Linked DNA regions of Homo sapiens. The protein of the gene in region 1 interacts with the protein of each later gene in a pairwise test. Each region holds a gene or a part of one and is shown on either strand. Other genes may lie near its edges.

Region 1 (3,653 bases):
GTCAGGTGACAAACAGGGAAATTTCCCACAAGCCCTGAAGGCAGTGTGGGCAGCCCGGACTTCTACTCCAGGAAACATAATTAAGTTTCTGCTATATAATATGCCTGATTATTTTAAACAGTTGGATTAAGTTCTTTAACAGGTTATATATTGCTTTCAGGCATTTAGACTTAAGGAAATCACTGCGCTATCTTGTCAAAAATAGTGAGTCCCTCCTAAGCTGGCCTCAATTCTTTCTCCTGGTCACACTAATCTCCTTATTTCCTGTCCCAATGCTAAACTGCAGATGAATAAGTAACATATGATCAGTTACTCTCTATCTCATTGAAATTTTAGCCAGTCAGCAGATGATTCCAAGGGCCCACAGTCTGCAGCACACTGTGCTAGGGGGGCTGGGAAGGCAGTTTAAACAGCTCTTTGCTTAAAAATTCCTGTCCTTGGGGAATCTTGAAAAGAGAGACGGCCAGGCATGGTGGCTTACGCCTGTAATCCCAGCACTTTGGGAGGCCAATGCAGGCAGATCACTTGAGGTCAGGAATTCGAGACCAACCTGGCCAACATGATGAAACCCTGTATCTACTAAAAATACAAAAAAAAATTAGCCAGGCATGGTGGCATATGCCTGTAACTCCAGCTACTCAGGAGGCCAAAGCAGGAGAATCACTTAAACCTGGGAGGCGGAGGTTGCAGTGAGCTGAGATCGCGCCACTGCACTCCAGCCTGGGCGACAGAGCGAGACTCCGTCTCAAAAAAACAAAAAAGAAAAGAGAGACCAAACACACACCTCAGAAAGAGATAGGAGGATATCAACAAAGCAAGCAGCAAAACAAGCTTGAACTAATATAGCATTATGGAAACTTATGTTTGAGTGTTTGTTGTTCTGGATGCTTGCTTTTTTTGTTTGTTTGTTTTTTTCTTTTTTCTTTTTTGGAGACAGGGTCTTGCTCTGTCATCCACCCTGGAGTGCAGTGGCACAATCATAGCTCACTGCAGCCTCAAACTCCTGGGCTCAAGTGATCCTCCCACCTTAGCCTCTCAAATAGGTGAGCCTATAGGCATGCACCACCACACCCAGCTAACTTTTTAAATTAGTGGTGGAGATGGGAGTCTCACTATGTTGCCCAGGCTGGTCTCAAACTTCTGGCCTCAAGCATTCCTTCTGCCTTGACCTCCCAGATTGTTTGGATTACAGGCCTGAGCCACTGTGCCCAACCCTGGATGCTTCTTCATGAAAATGTAGAAACTTAGAGAAAGTGGTCAGGAGATTACCAATGACTCCAATCCTGTATTTCCAAAGCCCAATTTACCATGTCCTTTCCTTTTAAATAACTTTGCCTTTTACAAAAGGAGCATTCAGAACGGCACTTAAACCCTCATTTGGACTCGTAGTTTCCGGGGTCTCGGAAGCCCTGGACCTGAAATTCCCTGCTCCCTTTATCCCAATTTATCCAATATGTTGGGTTCACTGGAGACAAGACAGAGTTGGTGTCATTGCCACAGGGAGGGGTGAGAGGTGGGCCAGGGCAGGCCAGGGGCTGCTGGGCCCCTGACTTGTCTCACTGAGCGGCCTCCTGTTGCTTGTGTCCACAGGAGAGTACTTCTGGCTGGAGCCAAAGAATGCATTTGAGAATTTCCAGGAACCTGACATCGGCCTCGTCGCACTGGCTTTCCTTCAGGGCTCCTTTGCCTATGGAGGCTGGAACTTTCTGAATTACGTGACTGAGGAGCTTGTTGATCCCTACAAGTGAGTTGAAAGAGCCTGGCTATTCCCTCTCCCTTGAAGGGCCACAGCACCTGCTGCTGGAAAGAGGGAGCAGGTGTCCATTGCCCACCTCGCCTTCCAAAGCCCCATTCTAACTGTGATTTGATCTATCCTGAAGTCGTAGTTCATTTCCCAGGCACTTAAACCATTTGCCGTTCACCCCACCAGGAGGAGGAAAGGATCCAGTGACTTTCCCAGAGCAGATTAGAAGCTGAAAACTGTCCTGCAGTAACACTACTGCCTTAGAGAATGAATTGTGCCCTGAGAGGCTTCTGGGAATCTTGCTTGTTTCAGGACAGGCCGGTCTTGGTGTCTTGAGGCAGGGGGAAAAGGTGCATTGTGGAGATTCAGGTCAAGATCAACAGGTGTGGAGCGTATTTCCAACCTGAGTTGTTTTATTGCCTTCATTTTTTTAACTTATTTTTTCTTTTGTTTTGTTTTGTTTTTAGACAGGGTCTCACCCTGTCACCCAGGCTGGAGTCCAGCAGTGCAGTCATAGCTCACTGCAGCCTCAGTCTTCTGGGCTCAAGCAATCCTCCCACCTCAGCCTCCTAAGTATCTGGGACTACAGGCACATGCCACCATGCCCAGTTAATTTTTTAATTTGTAAAGAAGAGGCCTTGCTATGTTGCCAGGGCTGGCCTCGAACTCCTGGGCTCAAACAATCCTCCCTCCTTGGCCTCACAAAGGGCTGGGATAATAGGTGTGAACCACCACGCTCAGCCTCATTTCCTTTAAATTATCCTGCCCATATTGAGACAAAGCCCACCTCCCAGGGAAAGGAAGCCTCACAGAAGGCTGTAAGGCTACACGCATGCAGAAAGACAGAAGACACCCCCTGGACTCCATGGCAAGGCGGGTGTCCCGGGTGCCAGCCCTTCCCCTCACCTCCTCTCCCTCTACAGGAACCTTCCCAGAGCCATCTTCATCTCCATCCCACTGGTCACATTTGTGTATGTCTTTGCCAATGTCGCTTATGTCACTGCAATGTCCCCCCAGGAGCTGCTGGCATCCAACGCCGTCGCTGTGGTAAGAAATGAAAGTCCCAGAGTCTCATACCAGGAATGCAGACATAGACTTGCCTGCTGTAGCCCCACTCACTTTTCCCTGATCCATGGCCTTGTGGAAGTGGAAATCACCCCCAAGTTCTCAGGGCAGAAACCACATATGTCATTGGCTGGGGTATCTTTAAGTGCCCAGGAGCAAACAGGTGGCTGGGTTGTACCTAGAACAGCTACAATGGCAGAACCGAGTCATTGCCACAGAGACCGCGTGGCCTGAGAAGCTATAAGACATTTACTATCTGGCCCTTTACAGAAAAAGTTTGCCAACTCCTAGTCTCGGGCACTTAAAGCTCTAAATGTGAGAGTGGTATGAAGCAGACAGGCCCCTCCTCAGAAAGACATAATCTTGCACAAGACATGCCTTTTCTCTCTGCCTTCTCCTCCAGAAGCAGAAGTCAGGTGTGCTCTTTGGGGAAAGAGACCATGCTGGTGCAAGGGGTTGGGATCCTTCACATCTAAGAAGGACCTGGGAGGCACCTTGCTCCCTCACCTGGCATCAGGCTGGGCCACCACCCAGCCTGCCAGTCTCTTCACTGGCCTTATCTCAAAAGACTGTAAAGAAAGAGGTCCTCCCATCTCCTGGGGCAGCCTGTTCTTATGACCAACAGCCTTCTATTCTGAACAATCTCTCCTTGGTAATGTGCTGTAAACCTGGCTCAGGGAATATAGAAAAGGCTGGTCTCCTGCATTGTATAGTCCTTAAATACATGAAGATTCATCTATAGCTTCACAGCCTTTTCTTTCTCAGACTAAGGAGGGGCTCATTCCTATTATTTTACCCCCAACTCATCTGTTTTGATGAATTGAGAAATTCTCACCCTGTGATT
Region 2 (3,653 bases), on another chromosome or scaffold:
TATCCAGTAACCTTGGTTTGAGTTTAATGCAATAAATGTTAACCATGAGATAGAAACCCTGCCTTCAGCTAGTTCACTGTGTGTACATAGAAAGATATGTATTTGCCTGTGTGTGTGTGTGTGTGTGTGTGTGTGTGAGAGAGAGAGAGAGAGAGAGAGAGAGAGAATGTATCCATGTATCCTTCCTTCTTTTCTTCCCCTCTACCTTCCATGCCCACTTTCCCTTCTTGTCCATCATGGAGTCAGACTTGGATTCAATCCCAACTCTATCAAATAACCTTGATTTGAGTTTAATTCAGTAAATATTAACCATGAGATATAGATCCTGCCTTCAAGTAGTTCAGTGGTTAGAAAGCTAGTAAATGACTATTGCTGTAAACAGTACATATTAACCTCTATATCAGAGATAAGTGTAGGTATATTGACATAGAAGAAGGAGTGAACCACTTTGCCTGGGGATCTGGAAACTCAGGAGAGTCTTTACCTGTTCTTATCCTCTTTGGCTGGGCATCCCAGTATCAGGAAGTGATGTGATATATATACTGGTAAAGTAGTCATTGGCCCTATCAATAAACATTTTTCCGTTTTATGTAAAAAGTATGAGTCACATCTGAGATGAGATCCTGCTTCTACTAACTTGTTAATTATGTGACCTTGACCAAACAACTTAGCTTCTCTGACCCCTTTTCCTCATCTCTAAAATGACAATATAGATTGTATGAAATAAATGTAGCTACATATTAGTTAACAATATAAAAACTAATTCTTGATTGAGCATTTATTATTGATCAGTCGCTCTTCTACATAGAACAGTTCTTACCTGCTTTTATTCATTTAATTCTCCTATTAATCTTAGAAGGTAGTATATTATTTTTCTTCCCATTTTATAGATGAGGAAACTGAGACAGGAAGGTTAAGTAACTTACCCCCAAGAGTTTCTTTTCCTAGAACTAGAACCCATGGAGTCTGTATACAGAGTCTGTGCCCTTGACCATTATTCCACATTGCCTCTCAATAAAGCACCGAGTGTAATACCTGATGCCCAGTAGTTGATCAATAAGTGACAGCTATAGCCATGGGAGTAATTTCCTCCTCTTCCCTTAGTTATCCAAGAAAAAGGCAGTACATCAGCAGAATTACATTTGGCCTAACGAGGCAATTCCCAGTGTGAAAAAACTGTTCTGGGAGCTAAAACATGTTTTGGACATTCATGTCTTAACCAGAGTCTGACTATAATTGTTAGGGGTGTCTTTGTTCTTGCCAAGATGCATTAAGTGAATTACCTACTGATTTTCATGTAGAAAGGGCTGGTGCCATGGCTTACCTATAACTTTATGACCTCCACTCCAGAAGAGGGAAAGGGAATCCTCCAGGGCGTGCTGCTACTAGAGGAAGAGGAGAGAGGTACAGGAATATGCTGAACGTTGCTGTTCTGAGGAGCCACTCAATAGCATTTTTGCCACAGTGGCGGAATTATTTATTTAAGGAAGAAAGTATAACTGGAGAATATTTCAAGCAGTTAATCAGTGAGCTGCATCTCCCAATTTCAGAGACAGAGGAACTCTAGAGAGCATGCAGAGCAAGTTAATCTCTACCCAAGGCATTTTAATACATTTGCTAAAGAAGTCAGTGTCAGCCGGGCGTGGTGGCTCACGCCTGTAATCCCAGCACTTTGGGAGGCGGAGGCGGGCGGATCACGAGGTCAGGACCATCCTGGCTAACACGGTGAAACCCCGTCTCTACTAAAAATACAAAAAATTAGCCGGATGTGGTGGCGGGCGCCTGTAGTCCCAGCTACTCGGGAGGCTGAGGCAGGAGAATGGCGTGAACCCGGGAGGCGGAGCTTGCAGTGAGCCTAGATCGCGCCACTGCACTCCAGCCTGGGCGACAGAGCAAGACTCTGTCTCAAAAAAAAAAAAAAAAAAAAAAAGGAAGTCAGTGTCAGCTCTTGTTATACCGAGGAAGAGAACATGTTCTTCCAAGGGGATAGTTGGTTTTTATTTGATTGAAATATCTACTATATATGAACATTTGCAGTGTGGCCCTCTGAAGTATTTCAGTTGCATAGTTCAGTTGTTTAATAATATTAGTTGTTAGTTATTAAATGACCTATAAAAACCATATGAGAGACTATTGATCCTCACCACAAAGACGAATGGTAAAGATTCATTAATTCAACAAACATTTCTAAAGTGCCTACTGTGTGTTAGGTACTGTACCAAGCTCAGGGATTACAGACCAGTAAGACATGATTCCGTGGTCCACTGAAGTCAATTGACATGTTAGCATTTAAGTACAATAAGGTGTTGGAAGTGCTCTGATAGTCTACTAAAGGCATGATGGAGATTGAAACTTGTGTCCTGTCATCCTCAGTGTCCATAGCAGCTACCATCATCTATGCCTATGCCTGGCTGGTTCCTCTTGCACTCTGGGGTTTCCTCATGTGGAGAAACAGCAAAGTTATGAACATCGTCTCCTATTCATTTCTGGAGATTGTGTGTGTCTATGGATATTCCCTCTTCATTTATATCCCCACCGCAGTAAGTACCATACTTAGGGAGTAGATTCTGAGTGATGCTCTGTTCTTGGTAGAAACTTCAACCAAGAATTTGACCTACCATCATTATTTCCAGCGCAATACTCATGTTCTTCTGAAAAAATCTCCTTTGAAGTTAGAAGTTAAGCATGAAAGGGGTCTGGGGAGCCTAGTGCCTTCATTGGATCTTGGGCCCTTTGTTATAAAAGCATATGCCTCAGTCTACATGCTGGTGGTGTTCCTCCAGCCTGTACTGAAAAACCAGAGTGGCAATGGGGGCCCAGCTGCTGATTGGCTCAGGGGCCTTTGTAAACATATGTGCCTGGAATGAACAAATGCCTCCCAAGAACTCCCCGCTCCTCCTTTTCTCTTCTTTCAGATACTGTGGATTATCCCCCAGAAAGCTGTTCGTTGGATTCTAGTCATGATTGCCCTGGGCATCTCAGGATCTCTCTTGGCAATGACATTTTGGCCAGCTGTTCGTGAGGATAACCGACGCGTTGCATTGGCCACAATTGTGACAATTGTGTTGCTCCATATGCTGCTTTCTGTGGGCTGCTTGGTATGGGTTCAGTCGTATATTCTTTTGGTGTGTTTTATATCCAAATGCTAAAAGACCTCAAACTGTTAGACACAACAGTTCTTTTAAAATTGAGTCCATGGGCTGGGCATGTTGGCTCACACCCATAATCCCAATACTTTGGGAGGCCCAAGTGGGCGGATCTCGAGCTCGGGAGCTCAAGACCAGCCTGGGCAACATGGTGAAACCCTGTCTCTACTAAAAATACAAAAATTAGCTGGGCATCGTGGCTTAAACGATCCTCCCACCTCAGCATCGCAAGTAGCTGGTACTTGGGAGGCTGAGGTGAGAGGATCGCTTGAGCCCAGGAGGTGGAGGTTGCAATGAGCTGAGATCATACCACTGTACTCCGGCCTGGGTGACCGAGGGAGACCCTGTCTCAAAAGAAAAAAAAATTGATTCTATGAAATAAAATTTCATTTTAAGTAGACTCACCTACATGGGAAGTGGTGAAATTATGAGAATTTGGCTTTAGTCTTTGGTTTTGCCTAATTTCAGTAATCTGATGAGAATTTGGGGTCTGACCAGAGGAAATAG

What was found. The genes of interacting proteins can lie anywhere in the genome.
Region 2: the proteins of SLC7A8 (region 1) and YIPF1 interact in binary tests that used the Homo sapiens proteins (3 or more experiments, as listed by UniProt).

Annotation. Positions count from the first base shown.
Region 1 is NC_000014.9:23,138,562-23,142,214, reverse strand, and holds part of SLC7A8 (large neutral amino acids transporter small subunit 2), read left to right. Parts: intron 1-1,590; coding exon 1,591-1,744; intron 1,745-2,667; coding exon 2,668-2,791; intron 2,792-3,653. UniProt on the Homo sapiens protein: Associates with SLC3A2 to form a functional heterodimeric complex that translocates small and large neutral amino acids with broad specificity and a stoichiometry of 1:1.
Region 2 is NC_000001.11:53,865,645-53,869,297, reverse strand, and holds part of YIPF1 (protein YIPF1), read left to right. Parts: intron 1-2,373; coding exon 2,374-2,540; intron 2,541-2,915; coding exon 2,916-3,098; intron 3,099-3,653.